4 separate regions of the Homo sapiens genome follow, and all the other regions are linked to region 1. The links come from fine-mapping of genetic effects on gene expression. A gene starts in region 1. Each other region holds a variant in brackets. All regions are shown on one strand. Distances are from middle to middle.

Region 1 (4,350 bases):
TAAAGCCATAAAGCCCACTTTCTTCTGCTGAATAGAATGAGTTTGGGGACAGGGACAACGCCTTAAAATGGGTCAACGCGCGGACGCGAGGGGGCACTGTGAGTCCGCTTTGGCGAGGGAGAGGCGGCGGCCCGCGCGGGGCGGGGAGGGCTGCGCCCTTCCAGCATCCCAGCGCCCAGGAGCTTCGCCACCTACCAGGGTCCGAGACCTTAACTCGGTTCCGGAAAGGGCGTCCCGGGTGACCCAAGTTTGGGGCCACAAGCAGCTCCACCGGCTCTCCGCGTTGGTCTCTCCCCTCCCCCTAAGCAGACAGTCCTTTCTGCCAGCTGTCCTTAATTTGAGATTCGTGAGTCCCGGGGTTTGGGAAACCAGAACCCCCCTGCGACTGTAGGGAACGTTTTGGGTGCGCCTATGTCGGGTATTTTCCTGGGCAAAAGGACAGAAGCTGTCATCTGATTCTTTAAGGGGTTCGTGTCCCAAGAGGGGGTTAAGCTCTCTTGGTTTAGGATAAGAGGGCCCACCTAACCACCCACCCAAATGCCAAACACACAGCAGGTCGAGAAACGACTCTGAAATCACTCCTTGTCCACTTCCCAAGGTCGGGCGAGAGACTGGCACGCCCCACGGGCAATCTTCAGAAAAAAAGGTCAGATCTGGTCCTTAAACAGCTCAGGTGCGAAGCTGAATCGCCCTTCTGCGGAAAGAGAGGAGACAGTACCTGCCCCCGCCGTCCCTCACTTCCCTTAGTCCCAAGAAGAGGTCAGACACCGGGAAATGGGGCCCAGGCGCTTGGTCTGTTCCACCTGCCACTCGAGTCCCCAGTCCCAAGAGGCTGCTCAGACATTGGCATGATGGGGAAACTCGATTGATTTTGTTACCTCCTAGAGGGAAAATGCCGTGGGCGGAGATGTCTGAGCGTCCCTTCCAACACGAGCTGGGTGGTGCTCTATTGATTTTCACGCGATCCCCGGGCGGGAGCGAGAGGATAGGCTCGGATTCCCGGGCTCCAGGACCGAACGCCTGGCAGTGTCCCCGGGGGCAAAGCCACCCCGGGAGCCCGTGCAGTATACTAGGTGGGGGGCCCGGAGAGAAAGCATAGCGCCGACGAGGGGGAGGGGCCGGGCAGAAAGGAGGGTGGGGTACCGGGTGGGACACACTGACCTAGGAGAAAGTACAACCCACCCCAAACTTTCGCAGACCCGGGAGCTTAGGAAGGGAGAGCCAGGAAGACAGCAGCCTCTCCTGCCGCCCAACGTGCCCAGCTGCAGCGAGGAGGGGCGGCGCGCAAGCCGGCTGGACCCGGGCGGTCCCCACGTTGCGCCCACCCTCCGGGCCAAAACGCCGCCGCTCGGGTCACTGAGTGGCCGCCCACGGAAGAAGTCAGATCGCCGGGCTCTGGGCTGCGTACGGGATCCGAGGAAGGGGGATTCAAACGCGGATCCGGAAGGAAGGGACACTGAACCCCGCAGCGTCCCCAGCGCCGTGGGGCGGCGGGACGTGTCCTTGGGCTGCCAGCGGGCGCGGAAGCTGGAGTCCGGCAGGGTCGGGAAGAAGTGAGCACAGACTTCCACGGGTAGAAGAGTCAGATTAAACAGAAATGTGAAAAGCAACCCAGGGCAGCCAACGGAGCCCAGCAGCGTAGAAGCCACCGGCTTCCCGCCGGGAGGACTACAGTGACTGACACTCGCGAAGACTAGGCGCTCCCAGCGGCCGCGGGTCTGCGTGGAGAAGTCGCCTCGCGGCGCGGAGCGCGCCAGCGGCGGCGGCGGCTGCCAGAGCGCGAGATGCGGCGCGCAGCCGCCGGACCGTCCCGGCTGGGAAAACTCGCGGGCGGCACTGCGCAGCGCTGACCCGGCGCAGGTCCGAGGGGTGTGCCCCGGCCCCTCCCGTCTCCGCCCCCTCCCGCGCCAGTCGCGCGCCCCTCCCCGCGGCGGCAGCGTCGGCGGCGCATCCAGGGGCGGCGCGGAGCCTTGCTCAGCCCAGCAGCCAGTGCCTGCGAGCTCCGCTGCTGCTTGGGGAATTCACTTTGCTGCTTGTTCGCTTCTCCCTTCCTCAGGCTTCTTCTGATGGTTTTCCGTCTCCTGCCCGAGCCTTTCCTTTAAAAGGAAAACTTTACTGCGATACCCTTTTCCCCTTGGAGGAGAGGATTAAAAGTTCCAAGAACTGGTGCCGCCCGTGCCATTTGGGCGCTGGGAAGGTGCTCGGCGGCGGGGTTCCCGGTCCCACCATGTGCACCAACATAGTTTACGAGTGGCTCAAAGCGCTGCAGCTTCCGCAGTACGCGGAGTCCTTCGTGGATAACGGCTACGATGACCTGGAGGTGTGCAAGCAGATCGGGGACCCGGACCTGGATGCCATCGGGGTGCTGGCGCCCGCGCACCGCCGCCGTATCCTGGAGGCCGTGCGCCGGCTGCGGGAGCAGGACGCCAACGCCGCCGGCCTCTACTTCACGCTTGAGCCGCAGCCGGCGCCCCCCGGGCCGCCCGCCGACGCCGTCCCCACCGGCCGCCGGGGGGAGCCGTGCGGCGGCCCGGCCCAGGGCACCCGCGGGGACTCTCGCGGCCACACGACCGCCCCCCGCAGCAGGGAGCTGGTGAGCTACCCCAAACTGAAGCTGAAGATCATGATCAGGGATAAGCTCGTCCGTGACGGCATCCACCTGAGCAAGCCCCCGTACTCCCGCAAGGTAAGGAGGTGCCGTCCGGGCGGCCCGGGGCGCGCGGCGGGAGGGGACACAGCCCAGCTGCCTGTGCCAAGGCTTTGCAACCCATTCCAGGTGACGACGGAGAGGCCAGGAGGCTTTGGGTATCTGGGACCCTTTTCTATGTTCTTTCTGTATTAGCCCATTATTTCGTCCTTCCTGGTGTCTCCAGTGGTTGGTAAGACAAGCCCCCGCATCCAGATGTTATCTCTAAACTAACGACCAAAACTCCGCATCCTCTCTGGTGCTCGCCTGTCAGGAATCGGACTCGCGCTGCTTCACCTGGTAGCCAGGGGGAATTCCTAACGCCCTCTATAGTAGTTTTGGGTTTGAAGAGTACCAGAAAAAATGGTTAATACCTACATTGCTTTCTACCTTCCTTTTTCTCTTTCTTTTCCTTTTTTGAGTCTTGAGAAACTCCTAAGGGAAATCGGTGAACTCTTTAAAGAGTGGAAAGTCAGGCCCTGCCTTTCTCAATTCCATAAAAAATCCCAGCGCTGCTGCAAATTTGAGAAGCTTACCATTCACATGAGCATTTTAAGAGGAAAAGTGAAGGAAGCACGTGTCAGTCCACTTGAGATGATTTCCTAAACTTGTGTATACTGGAGGCAATAAGGTGCTAAGGACATCAGAGATAATCGGGCCACAGGATGTGCTTCAGAGGTCTGGGCTGTCACGAGTTTGGTTTATTATTAAGCCAGATAAGATGAAGTAGGTACAACTGTGACTTCCAGGAAGTGTGAGTGGACCTGCATTTGGGAGAGGAGGACCGAGCACAAGTGAACTAAAGGGGAATCCTCTGCACCGGGGGCCTCAGGGAAGGAACCTGGAAGTTCCGAAATGTGGAGTGGGAGCTGGGTAATTAACAGAAAATGGTACTTCACACCAGAGCTCTGCTTCTAGCTGCGAGTCTGTTCCGTTTAGGTTTCTAGTTCAGGCGGCTGTCGGAGTAGAGGGTCCTGACTTGATAGAGAAGTAGACAGCACAGGTAACGCTCAGGATTGCAGAAGGTGCACAGGAATATGAGCACCTCAGCTTAAAAATCAAGACTTAGAAGAGCCCAGGGAGAAAATGATGGCAAACATACTCAGCTGGTGGGCCACAGAAACCCAACTCCCTAATAGGAAATGTGGATAATCTCAGTGTTGTGTGGGTATCTTGGGCCCTGGTAGTATTGCTGTAGAATCTTAAGTAAAGGCTGTAATGCCTGGAGTTAAGGAAGTTAAAGGGAAAGCTTTGTTAAGAGTAGATAACAATACCTAAGGTAGATGGGAATAAGGGGTTTAATATTATCTACTACCTTGCACGTACCATAGGCAATTCAGATCACCTGCTTGACCATGTTAATTGGTTTTTTAAGGAGGATACAAAGAAGGCAGGTTGGGAGGACAGAGTGCTTCAAATTAAACACGTGTTCCAGTTACCCACTCTGTGCCACTGATGTGTGCTCAAAGCAGGAAAGGAGAGAACACTTTTCCCAGGCAGTTGCCTGTATGTAGGAGTTCCATGTATGTCTGGTGTGGATAGAGAGATCTGGTCATCAGTATAAAGGCTTGGTCCTGGACACAGCAGGTCAAAGGAGATCAAAGCCAGTTAGATGTTTGTTATTAGCATCCCGGGAAGTAAGGTGGGCTTAGTCTGAGAGAATG
Region 2 (4,350 bases), 360 kb after region 1:
AGTGAAAAGCATACACAAATAAACTAATATTTTAGAGTTACATATGACAAATTTTTTTCTTTAATTACTAATATCAAAAGAGATACATTTAGGCTTAAGAATAAAACTATAAAAACTATACAAATTTACCATTGTACCTCTCTAGCTTTGATGTTATTAGGCAACTGTTTAAGGCTCATTTTCCCACTGAAACGGAAAAAACAAAAACAAAAACAGGACAAGACAAATCTCTAAAATGTAACCTCTTTTTAAAGATGACTGGGCAGAGCCTCAAAATAAAAGAAGTAAAGGAAAGAGAGATACAAAGGTGAGAAAAGTTAGGAAATTTTATTTGTCCTTCTCTTCACTTTATCAGAATGGCAAAATTAACAATATCATTCCAGTTTATTCCTTGGGTACCGGCAACATCTTATTGCTTATCTCTAGTGCTATCTAGAACCTTAAGCAACTCACTTTGTCCTCCCCTTTGTCCTATTAGAGACATCAGGCAAGGCAGCAGTATTAGGAAAAGGCATGTTTGATTACACCGTTCAAAAATCTGTCAGTTTTTTCCAGTTTTCTTTCAGACTTTCTTCCCCTACTGTAATTCCTGCTACGTTCTAAATTTTATTTTCATGAGGCCAACCAGTTGTTTCTAATATAGCGAATTAAATCTGTAACTCTCTTTCTTCAAAGTAATTAAAGAGAAACTTAGCATTCAGAAAAATAATATATATGTAAATTTAATTTAACAGGAATCCAGTGATTCTAATTAAGAAAAGGAGAACAGTCTTACCTACTGAGAAGAATCATGAGCATTTCTCCAGTTTGCAACAACGTTATTCTGATTCATAAACACACTATATTAGTATTAGTATTAGTGGTAGTGGTAGTATTATTAAGACATGGTCTTGCTCTGTCACCCAGGCTGGAGTGCAGTTGCACAATCACAGCTCACTGTAACCTTGAATTCCTGGGCTCAAGCAGTCCTCCCACCTCAGCCTCCCAAGCAGGTAGGATTACAGGTGTGCACCACCATGCCTGGCTGTTTTTTTTTAGAGATGGGGTCTTGCTCTGTTGTCCAGGCTGATCTAAATCTCCTAGCCTCAAGAGACCCTCTCACCTCAGCCTCCCAAACTTGTGGGATTATAAGCATGAGCTACCTGTGCCTGGTCTATTATGTAATCATTCTAAACTTGCTCTATGCCAAGCACTATTGTTAAGCGCTTTGCCTGAATTAACTAATTTGATCCTCATAGCATCCCAGTAAGGGTGGGTTATTATCCTCATTTTACAAATGAGGAAACACATCAGTGGGTTGGGTTCCTTGCCAAAGGTCACATTGCTAGGGGGAGGCAAGAAGCTGGATTTGAACTCATGTTTGCATCACTCCTCTATACTGCTTTTCCCTAGTGGAGTATGGAATGAGTATTCATGGGGACTGACCTGGTGCTCATGGACTTGCCCACTTCATGGTCCGTGATGGAACAGACATGAGGAAAATCCCTTTCCCATCACCTACACTCAGTCTGATGGCACTGTGTTCAGGCCACACTAATGATGGCTAATCAATGAGAACAAATGGATGGGTCAGTACCACCTGATGCCATATTGAAAAAATCTAACTCAAATTGGAAATTCTGCTCCCCAACAAGTCCCATAGCTCCATGAAGACAGGAAGTGTGTCCAATTTTAAACAATTTTCCTTGGTGTTTTCTTTTTAATCAGCTTCGGGGCCATCGTAGTGCCTTGTACAAGCACATAATCAACACAAGTGCGAACTGAATTGATCTATGCCTTGGTAGCATTGCCCTTAAAAATTGCACTCTTAAATATGATGAGAAACTAGCTGTATATTAAAAGTGTAATTTAAGGCCGGGTGCTGTGGCTCACGCCTGTAATCCCAGCACTTTGGGAGGTTGAAGTGGGTGGATCATGAGGTCAAGAGATTGAGACCATCCTGGCCAACATGGTGAAGCCCTGTCTCTACTAAAAATACAAAAATTAGCTGGGCGTGGTGGTGCACGCCTGTAGTCCCAGCTACTCGGGAGGCTGAGGCAGGAGAATCGCTTGAACCAAGGAGGCAGAGGTTGTAGTGAGCCAAGATCGCGCCACTGCACTCCAGCCTGGTGACAGAGTGAGACTCCATCTCAAAAAAAAAAAAAAAGTAATTTAACAACTAAGTATATTTGTCTGGTATCTATTCTGACTGTGTTGTTAGTTGATTTTTCAATAGTCTAGGGTTTAAAAAAATGCATGTTGCTATTAATTGTAATGTGAGTTTTATAGAAAGAGGAAAAAGAGTGACCCAAGACATGAAAATAAAATTATTTTGAAATATTCATATGATGTAGGAAGGTTTTCTGTGTATATATCGTACTAATGCTAATGGTACTTACTAGTTATTATATGGATTATTTATTAAAAGTATAAATTTTTATTAAGTGGTTCTAATTTTATAATTAGAGAAATTTTAAAGTACCTGAGTTAAAATAATGACTTATTATTTAATTTGGCTTCCTTTCCTTGTAATTAAAATATTCAGTACTTTCTTTTTATCAGATTTATCTTTACTTCTTTATTCATTGAGCTAGCTACAGTGGTTTCCATGCATAGATTCTTTTAATGTCCTATATACCTTCTGGAAAGTTAGGAAGTATTTTATGATGCATCACCAATGTTATTTCAAAAACCCCAAATTAGCAGCAAACTTATACATAGGAAAAA[T/C]AGAATGAGTCAGTGGATTGTTTTATATTATATGTCTCTTGAGAACAAGTCATCAAAAGTTACAGCATTTAAAAAAATGTACCATGTATATAGGAGAAATCTGTCTCAGCTACTGTCTGCTTTTAGTGAACATGATACTATGCTTACTTAATTGCTCAAAAAACTTTAGGCAATGCTAAGCAAGAATAGAAGGCTTTTTCCTAGGGTGGGGAAACAGGCTGATTGGCTTTACTTCCTTAATTATGGCTTCACAGTTTAGGCATTACAGAAATATTACATATCTGACTCTTAAGGTCTTTACCCATTTCATATTAGATCTTAGATTTCTTCATCCCATTATTGATCTAAAATGTCTCTAGCTCTCTCGGGTAAAGGAAGAACATGCCCATGTGTTGCATTAGGTAATTCCTATTATTGAAAAGCTGTGTTCAATCTAAAATGACCTTTTCTTGGATTTTTTGTCAAGCTAGCTTTGCAACCCATATTAAATTGAAGCTTTTGTATGAGGACCGAGAAGCCCGTTGTTGCGTGGGCAATGACATTCTTAGGGTGTTTGCTCAGGACAGCCGGCCCTCCGGCCAGCTGGTGGCAGGAGCTGGAGCATTTGGCCGAGTAGTCATTGCTGCTTTTTTTAAGTCCACAGCAAAGACAGGGCATTGGGTCTGAATTTGGACTATAAAGAAGGATGGACAAGTGCTATGCAAAGAAAAAGTTCATCTGTGAAGAGGATCTCTGTGCTTTCATAATCAGAACTCACAGCATCAGTACTTTTGAAGATGTCGAACAAGAATTTTGGGAGGGGCAGCATGGAGATTTGGACTTTTCACAAAAATAAATTTGATAATCAGCATTGGTTTTACTTTAATTTTAGTGGTCCTTTATGATTGTACATGTTTATAGTGACAAATTACGTCTGTGGGATTCGGGCAGGACTTTGAAAATGGCCTGATTATGTTAAGCTGCGTTAAGAGTTTTCTGGGAGGCTCACATGACTTCACTCAGAGAAAATGCCCAAATGGTAAGAGAGGAACTCTCTTAATTGCCTATTTCCGCATGTTACTGTTTTCTTAAGCAAAGATTGTTCATTTACTTACCTTTTAAGTTTGTGTTTGCACTTCCAAGTTGAATTTTAAAACTTCTTCATTTAAAATAATAATAATAGTCACTTTAAAATTCTCTCATGATTAGAAAGACAGTTTCTCAAATTTTAACACTAATTCTATACTTGTCAGGTTTATTTTGGTTTACATTATATGCACTATTTTTCCCCTAAGACCTTAAAAACAACCTTATTTGAGAAATGTGAATTATGTGATTAGAATGCCCAGTTTTACTGAACCCAGCAGAGTTCTAGTTACTGAAGATACACCAATGGCCTGCACCACTTAGAGCAACGACCAAGTAGTGGTCCCCTCTTAACTCTTTTACTGTCTGTGAGGTATGACCTTCTTTACACCCCCACATGCCTCTAGTATGCATTGAAGTCCAGCCTGCCCAGAGCTGTTAAGCAGCTATAACTAATAATTTCCATTCGACTATCTCATCCCTCTTCTCTTCTACTCTCTTGTCAGCTGAGTGTTCTATCCCCTAGAACAGGGGTCCCCAGCCCCTGGTCTGTGGCCTGTTGGGAACCAGGCCACACAG
Region 3 (4,350 bases), 160 kb after region 1:
CAATTACTTTCTCCACTGAAGTCTTGAACCCCTCAAAATCATTCATGAGGATTGGAATCAATTTCTTCCAAACTCTTGTTTATGTTGATATTTTGACCTTCTTTCATGAATCATGGATCTTCTTAATGACATCTAGAATGGTGAATTCCTTCCAAAAGGTTTCAATTTACTTTGCCCAGATCCATCAGAGGAATCACAATCTTTGGAAGCTACCACCTTACGAAATGTGTTTCTTAAATAAGACTTGAAAGTCAGAATTACTCCTTGATCCATGGGCTGCAGGAAGGATGTTATTACCAAGCATGAAAACAGCATTCATCTCTTTGTACATCTCCATCAGAGCTCTTGGATGACCAGGTGCATTGTCAATGAGTGGTAATATTTTGAAAGGATTTTTTTCCTTTTTCTGAGAAGTAGATCTCAACAATGGGCTTAAAATATTCAATAAGCCATGTTGTAAAGAGATGTGTTGTTAGGCAGGCTTTGTTGTTCCACTTATAGAACACAAACAGAGTAAATTTAGCATAACTCTTAAGGGCCCTAAGATTTCCAGAATGATTGAATGAGCATTAGCTTCAGCTTCAAGTCAGCAGCATTAGTCCCTAACAAGAGAATCAGCCTTTCTGTTGAAGCTTTGAACTCAGACATTGACTTCTCCTTTAAAGCTATGAAAGTCTTAGATGGCAACTTCTTCCAATAGAAGGCTGCTTCATGTACATTGAAACTCTGTTGTTTAGTTTAGCTGCTTTCACCCATGATCTTAAATCTTCTGAATAACTTGCTGCAGCTTTTCTATCAGCACTTCCTGCTTCACCTTGCACTTTTATGTGTTGGTGATGGCTTCTTTTCTTAAACTTCATGAACCAACATTTCCTAGCTTCAGACTTTTCTTCTACAGCTTCCTTACCTCTGTCAGCCTTCTTAGAATTGAAGAGAGTTAGAGCCCTGCTTTGAATTAGGCTTTGAGTTAAAGGAATGTTGTGGCTGTTAGGATCTTTTATCTAGACTATTAAGTTTCTCCATATCAGCAATAAGGCTAATTTTGGTTTTCTGTCATTCATGTGTTCACCGTAGTAGCACTTTACATTTCCTTTAAAAACTTTGCCTTTGCATTCGCATCTTTCCTGTTTGGCACCAGAGGCCTAGCTTTTGGCCCATCTTGGCTTTTGACATGACTACTTCACTAAGCTTAATAATTTCTAGCTTTTGACTTAAAGTGAGAGAAATGCAACTCTTCCTTTCACTTGAACACTTCGAGATCATTGTAAGCTTATTAGCTGGCCCAATTTCAATGTTGTGTCTCAGTGAAATAGAGAGGCTTAAGAAGGGCAAGAGGGACAGAAGAATGGCAGGTCAGTGGAGCAGTCAGAACACATATTTATTGATTGAATTCACCATCATGTGGGAGCAGTTTGTGGCACCCCGCAACAACTACAGGGGTAACATCAAAGGTCTCTGATCACAGATCACCATAGCAGGTATAATGAAAAGTTTGAAACATTACCAAAATATGACACAGAGACACAAAGTGAGCACATGCTGTTGGAAAAATGGCGCCATAAGACTTGTTTGATGCAGGCTTGCCACAGACTTTCCATCTGTGAAGAGTGCAGTATCTGAAAACTACAATAAAGCAAAGCACAATAAAATGAAGTATGCATGTATTTTTGATATACGGATTAATATATCTGTAGGACAGAGTTTCAGAAGTAGACTTACTAAGTCAAGGTTTAAGCACTTTTAACATACAGAGTTTCTACCAAATTGTTCCCAGAATGGCTGAAACAAGTTGCTAACACCAATAGCATAAGAGAACATTGTTTCCTAGTGGGTCTTTGGTCATTGGGTGTTATTAATTTTTTGCTTAATATCTTCAACAAATTGAGCAACAAGCCACCCATTACTTAATTATTTCTTCTGTTTTCATAAAAATTTTGGATCTTTTTATGTGTCCGTCCTATTTTTTGAATGTCAATTGCTTATCTTTTCTCCCATTTTCATTTATCTTCTTGTTCATTATTGCTCTAGTGCCACATTTTGAAAATTACTGGAAATTTATAATATGCTTTATATTTAATAGGACATGTTTCTTCTCATTTTTCTTTTTCAGGATTTTTTTTTTTTTTTTTTTTTTTAGCTC[A/G]TCTTGCACATTTACCCTTCCAGATGGATTTTAAAATCAACTTGACAAATTCCATAGAAAATTCTCTTGGGGATTTTGTTGCAGTCTGCATTGAATATATAAATAAATTTTAGGAGCGTTTACGTGTTTACAATATTGAGTTTTCCAACCAGGAACATGGTTAACCTCTCTACTTACAGATTTTTATTTGTAGCTTTTTATAAAATATTATAGCATGTGTACTTTTGTTATTTGTCTTAATGCTAGTATTTTATACTTTTTGCCATTATTGTGAATGGAAAATTTTCCATTATGTGTTGTAATTATTATTAAAGATACACAAGGAAACTGATTTTTGCTTACCTTGTTCTAGTCACTTTATGGTATACTTTGATTAATTTTAGCATATGTTCAGTGGATGTTCTTGGATTGAGAAATTCTTTAATTACAAAATGTTAAAGTATATATTGTGGTAAATTTTCCAAAGTCTAAATTTATAAAATATAAAGAGAAAATGCTTCTCCATCACTTTGAACAGTTCTGCAACATGAATATTTTTTCACTTACAATGTGTTAGATATTTTCATGTTAGTGCGTGGGGATGTACTCTATTCTTTTGAGAAACTGCGTATTCTTTGTATGGATAATCATGGTATATTTTTATCCAGGAAATGTTTAACATAGTTAAATAAATCAATAGCAAATAACACTAAAAGGCTTATATTGAAGAAAATCAGTCTCCTTATAATAGCCCCCCACCCTTATCCCCCACATCCACCTTCCACAGAGGCCACTTTAAGCAATTTTTTTTGTTGCATATATCTTCATATTTCTAAATGTTCTGATTATACTGCTCTTTCTTGGTATTTCATCATTTATTGATTTTCTAGGTGAAGATTTACTTTTTAAAAATCCCTCTCTTTTGCTCCTTAAGTTCCTTCCAAATAATACATTTCACAATTTATTTATTTATTTATTTTAAACCAAAAGCCACTATTTACATTGTTGTAACTGTTTAACATAGTTTACTGTTAGACCAAACAGTATAGCATGACTTACTTTTGTCTTGCATCTTCTAGGTAAGTGATAGCTTTAATTCTTCTCTTTCTACAATTATGCTACTCTTACCTTTTTCTTGTGTTATTTTGTTGGCTAGAACTTCTAGAATAATGTTGAATAGTAATAATAATACTGATTTTTCTTATCTTGTCCTTGGCTCCTTGGCTCTTACAGAAATACCTTGAATGCTGATTAATTGTTTAGAAATAAACATTTAAATGTCTCAGCTCAGATAAATTTTGATACCAAAAAGCAAAAACCATTTTTTTTTTTTTTGATACAGAGTCTTGCTCTGTTGCCCAGGCAGGAGTGCAGTGGCGTGATCTCTGCTCACTGCAAGCTCCGCCTCCTGGGTTCACGCCATTCTCCTGCCTCAGCCTCCTGAGTAGCTGGGACTACAGGTGCCTGCCACCACGCCCAGCTTATTTTTTGTATTTTTGTTAGAGACGGGGTTTCACTGTGTTAGCCAGGATGGTCTTGATCGCCTGACCTCTTGATCCGTCTGCCTCGGCCTCCTGAAATGCTGGGATTACAGGTGTGAGCCACCGCACCCCGCCAAAAACCATTTTTTAAAATAAGATTTTTAGCCTTTTCTTTTGGAAAATGATACTTGTGCGGACACTTCCTCTATTTATTGATGGTATCAGGTTTTTTTTTCCTGGCTTAATAAAAGCAAGATATAGTAACCTAACTATTGTTAAATGCTGATTTCATTTTTTTAATCAGATGTATCAAATCCATGAAAAATATAATTAAAAGAAAAAATTAAGAACCTTAAACATCAATTCTTCGGTGATGAGACTATGGTGAAGGTCACCTATATCTAGAGTGTTGTCAATAAGAGCAACATGAATGAAAGATGGAGGGAAAAGGAGGGTTTAATCTATGCAGGAATAGGGTTTTAAAAGAAAGTGGAGGTCAGTTTGTCAGAAAAAAAAGGATAATGGGTTAGAGGTCTTCAGGTATTTGGGTAATTAATAAAAATGTAGTGTACAAGGCAATTTTAAGCTCTGTGATTATTAGGAAGGATTAACAGTAAGTATGACTTGGTATTTATTCACAGTTGTTCAATGGTTATGCTAATGACACAATGTTGTGCTGTAAATGTAAATTGAAAACTGCTCTTTTACTCTTTTGTTTTTTTACTTTTATATCTGTTTGGGGTAAGAGAG
Region 4 (4,350 bases), 170 kb after region 1:
GCATCAAACACCCATTTTCTCTTAGGTTTTATGGATAGCCTATCATTCTAATAGGGAGAATAAATGCTTTAATTATGACTGAAGCAGAGTTTCAGCCTATGTTCCTGGGCTTCCTTTAGAATTGTAACCACAAGTAAGCTCTGAAATGTGAAGAACCCATCCTGAACGTGTTCCCTCTGCTTTCCTGTTGAGGTTACCTTGCCAAGTGAATACCTCATATACATCCGTACTATAAAACATGACTGGCTCCCCAACAACGTAATTGAAACAGATGTTCTAGATACTGTTTTACTCTTCAGTGATGTCATCTCATTAGGGATGAATGTTTCTTTGTTCTTTTTTATGAATCATTTTAACTTATTCTACGCGGGTTTTGTATGTGTAGGAGTTTTTGCCAGTGGTTGTTAGCTTCTGATTTATTTTAATTGAAACGTATACATGGTATATGTCATTAAGGCCTCACTCTTAAATTTGCTGTATTTGATACAGTATTGTGGCCATTGATTGGTCCAGTAATATAACTTAAATGTAGATTTTAGGATGTTTTTTGTATAAGGGGAAAATTATAACACCTTCATAGAATCCATTTAAAATGAACTGACAGTGATTTTCTGTTAATGCAGAGCTGCAGCAAATCACTGAAGTTCAAGGGTAATGAAACTGCTGGTCATTTACATTAATGCCACGCAAAAGAAATAAACTTCCTTTGCATTTTATTACCCACTTGTAAATATGTTGGAGAATACCAAGAATTTAGCTTAAGTTTCAATATATCAACACCAAGCACAGTTACCTTTTAACTGTTTATTTTACACTGCATGGTGAAAGCGTGGAGTAAGTTGCTTTTATGGTAATTGAAGTTTGTCATCTTTCACTCAGTTGCCTGCTTGTAATGTTACCCCTGAGAAAAGTCATCTGAAAATGGGAAATGGACCTGGACAGGAATAAGCAGAGCATGCTGTAGGTATTAAGTTCAATTCAAACATCATTTTTATTCAACCCCGGCAAGATGCTGGGGACCATTTTGGAAACTGGCAGTACAAACCTGTGAGAAGTCTCTCACCTCACAGAATTCACAGTCCAACTCTGGACACCGAGATACTAGCAATGAACACTGATCTTGCCATTCTTCAAATGCAAGCTCACTTCCTCAGCTCCTTCAGGTGTTTGCTGAAAGATCATCTATTCAGTGGGGCTTTCTTAGACCACCTAATTTTAATATTGCAATTTCCTTCCCAACTCTCAGCACTCATTATTTTTCTATCCTGGTTTATAGCACTTATTGGTAGAGTATGCTGTTAGTAAATAGTGTACTATTTTTAAAGTCTATACCTCTTGTATATTATTGATTTCCTCCTATTGGAAGGTGAATTCAACGAGGGTAGGGATTTTCATCTGTTTTGCTCATTGATGGATCCCTACACCCTAGAACATGCCTGGCACATTGTAGGCAGTCAGTATATACATGAGTAGGGATGAATCATCCTAAGACAGCTGAGAAAGGATTCAAAGAGAAAGTAACATTTAAACCAGACCTTGAAGAAGCGATAGAAATATCCAGGAGAGATGCAGCTTTCCAGTAGAGAGATTGCCACGAGCAAAGCACATGTCTAAGGAGGAAAGAGTGGCCTGGGGGTGGGGGTGGGGGTAGGGGAGCTAGAAGATCAGGGTAGAGGGGGCTGGATGAAATACAGAATTGAGGGAGGGGGAGTGAGAGTAAGAAATGACAGAAGCTGGGGCCAGATGGTGAGGGGCCAGATAAAAATAAAATTAGCATATAAATGGACTGGCTTTGCTCAATCAAAGGAGGATTTTCTTTCTTAAAGAAAGACAGTGGCTCTTTTCCTGATTTTTATGACTTGAGCTCATAAATCAAATCTTCAGAGCTAC[C/T]GACAATGTCAGCCTGCTGATGTTTAGGAGTGGAGGGTGACTGAGGAATGCGGTGTGCTGCGGATAGTCATGTCATCAGCAAGGATGTCTCAGAGTCTGCAAACCCGGACCTCTCTGTATTGGACAAGGCTAGGGAATGACTTTGAGAAGAACTGAATATTAAAGGAATTATCAACTTGAGTAGTAAGAGAGTTTCTAAGAATGATGGCAGAGCCACTCTGAAGTTCCTGAATGAGGTGGAGGAGGGGGAGAAAGTGGTGTGGTAAGGAACTTCAGTGGAGAAACAGCCCAGAGAACTGGGAAAGCAATGACTTGGAAGCAGCAATGAGTTGGTGTTGGAAAAGGAGTGGCTGCCATTGGGAAGGTTTAGAGGGTAAACTTTGAGCTTGAGGAAAATTAAGTTACATTTAATGTGAGAAAATGGAGGAAAAATGTGATCTGTATCTAACAGAGAGAATGGGATTGAGTTGAGTATCTAACACAGATAATGGGATTAAAAAACCCCAAGAGGATGAAGCCTCAGAGTAGCATAAAGGGGCTGGGCAGCAGAAGAGCTCTGGGCCAAGCTCACCACTATGGAGGAAGCAGGAAGGGTGCCCAGGGATGGCGGGCGGGGGCTTGGGAGCAAGGCCATGGGACATCGGCACTGTAAAGGGATGGGGAGGTTAGAGGGTGTATGGTGGTTGCATCGTAGTTAGTAGGGAGCCTTGTGAATTGTCACCTTAGAGGCCCAACCAAAAAGTGAGCAAGCCAGCCCCTTCCATGCTCAGGCACTTTTGAATAATTGAAACACTCCTGGCAATATCCCAAGTGTCATCTTATATTACCCTGAAAATAGCTGCTCCATTTAGGGTTGCATTTAACAGAGCTTATGTAGAAAAGATAAAGAATGGTGCAATTGGTTCTCATCCTACCTCTTTGGTTAAGGGCATTTACTCCACTGAGGGGTGGAGGTGGGAGCAGGATAATGTGTAATTTATGGTAAATTATCATAGATATTTATAGATGCATTTTCCCATAAGATTGTCTTATTTTATACGCCTGACTTAAACTTCTGAAAGAAGGCAAAGGCAACTCTTATCTTCTCGTTTGCACATTAAAGCACACGTACTCACTTATATTAACATAACATTGTTAGCATTTTCTGTCTTGTCACTATTAAAAATAAAACAGTAGGATTTACAAAGAATAACAAAATTTGTTATTGTAAACTAACACAGTCTCTCATTGTTATGCTGTTATAGTGTCTTCATATTTTAAGGAATTTGCAATCATGTAAAATGTATTGAATTTGATAGACTTCCACTATAAAACAGCTGAATGCTTCATAACAACCAACAAAGGGGTTGCATTTTTTCAGCTTGGCAGATTAACTGCTGGTTTTGTTTCCTGCCAGATCACTCGCTGTAACATAAGTAATAAATCAGGATAATTTTCTTCCTTTTTAGGGCTTTTCTTAAGTCTACCAAAACTCTCTTTTCTGGTAGGCAGAAAGATGGGGGACCTCATCTATACCTGTTACCTCTCCTCATCAACAATCTTATTCAAAACCAAACACTTAGATGAAATGGGTGGAAGGATGTCCCAGCATAGAGAAATAAGCCATAAAAGAACGCCTTGAGAAATGGGAGTTCATGGAAGAGGGAAGGGTTTTCTCACTGTGTTACTTTAGTGTGTTCTTGGCATAAGTGAGCTCTCTTTTTTTAAAACACCTTTAATGAGGTATACTTGTCATACAATAAACTGCACATATTCCAAGTGTACAATTGTGTTAAGTTTGACACAGGTGTATACCCATGAAACCATCACCACAATCAAGATAATGAACATATCCATCGTCTCCAAAAGTGTATTGTTGTATGTCTCAATAGTTCATTGCTTTTTATGGCTGAGTGATGTTCAGTAATATAATTGTGTACTAATATATGGCTATATATACCACAATTTAATGGATAGATATACCACAATTTGTTTACCCATTCACCTGTTGATGGGTGTTTGGGTTGTTTCCAGTTTGTGATTATTACAAATAAATCTATGAATATTTATGTACACATTTTTATAAGATCACATTTTACCTTTTTCTAGGAGTGGAGTGGCTGGATCGAATAGTGGGTCTATGTATCACTTTTAAAGAAACTTCTGGACTATTTTCCAAAGCAGTTGTATCATTTTGTATTCAGACTGCAGAGTATGAGAGTTCAGTAGCTTTACATTATAGTCAATGCTTGGGATGGCCAGACTTTTTCATTTTAGAAACTCAAATAAGTTTGTAGTAGAATGTCATTATAGTTTTTATTTCCTTAATGATGAATGATGTCAGGCATCTCTTCGTGTGCTTATGTGCATTTGTATATATTCTTTGGTGAGGTGTCAGTTCAAATATTTTGTCCATTTTTTAACTTGGGTTTGTTTTCATATTATTGAGTTTTGAGAATTCCACAATGAATTTATGTATTC

Alleles and levels. Alleles are on the strand shown, and positions count from the first base shown. SD is a standard deviation of normalised expression in the study named. Not every link is listed here.
With allele A in place of G in region 3, the expression in prefrontal cortex of the gene that starts at base 1,989 in region 1 is lower (small effect, 0.25 SD a copy in ROSMAP).

Evidence for each region. PIP is the estimated chance that this variant, and not a neighbour inherited with it, causes the effect.
Region 2: its variant is the best candidate, but not a certain one, in a credible set for the expression of SAMD5 in tibial nerve (GTEx, PIP 0.89).
Region 3: its variant is the best candidate, but not a certain one, in a credible set for the expression of SAMD5 in prefrontal cortex (ROSMAP, PIP 0.59).
Region 4: its variant is the best candidate, but not a certain one, in a credible set for the expression of SAMD5 in cerebral cortex (GTEx, PIP 0.73).

Annotation. Positions count from the first base shown.
Region 1 is chr6:147,506,702-147,511,051 of GRCh38, forward strand. SAMD5 (sterile alpha motif domain containing 5) reads left to right here and starts at 1,989. Exons shown (of 2, transcript NM_001030060.3): 1 at 1,989-2,686. The coding sequence starts at 2,228. RefSeq lists a silencer at 141-190.
Region 2 is chr6:147,871,245-147,875,594 of GRCh38, forward strand. It overlaps a transcript of SAMD5 not described here. Among named protein-coding and RNA genes, the nearest start is that of SAMD5, 360 kb to the left of the region's middle. The variant T/C (reference allele first, on the strand shown) is at 2,707.
Region 3 is chr6:147,669,778-147,674,127 of GRCh38, forward strand. It overlaps a transcript of SAMD5 not described here. Among named protein-coding and RNA genes, the nearest start is that of SAMD5, 160 kb to the left of the region's middle. The variant A/G (reference allele first, on the strand shown) is at 2,141.
Region 4 is chr6:147,675,196-147,679,545 of GRCh38, forward strand. It overlaps a transcript of SAMD5 not described here. Among named protein-coding and RNA genes, the nearest start is that of SAMD5, 170 kb to the left of the region's middle. The variant C/T (reference allele first, on the strand shown) is at 1,891.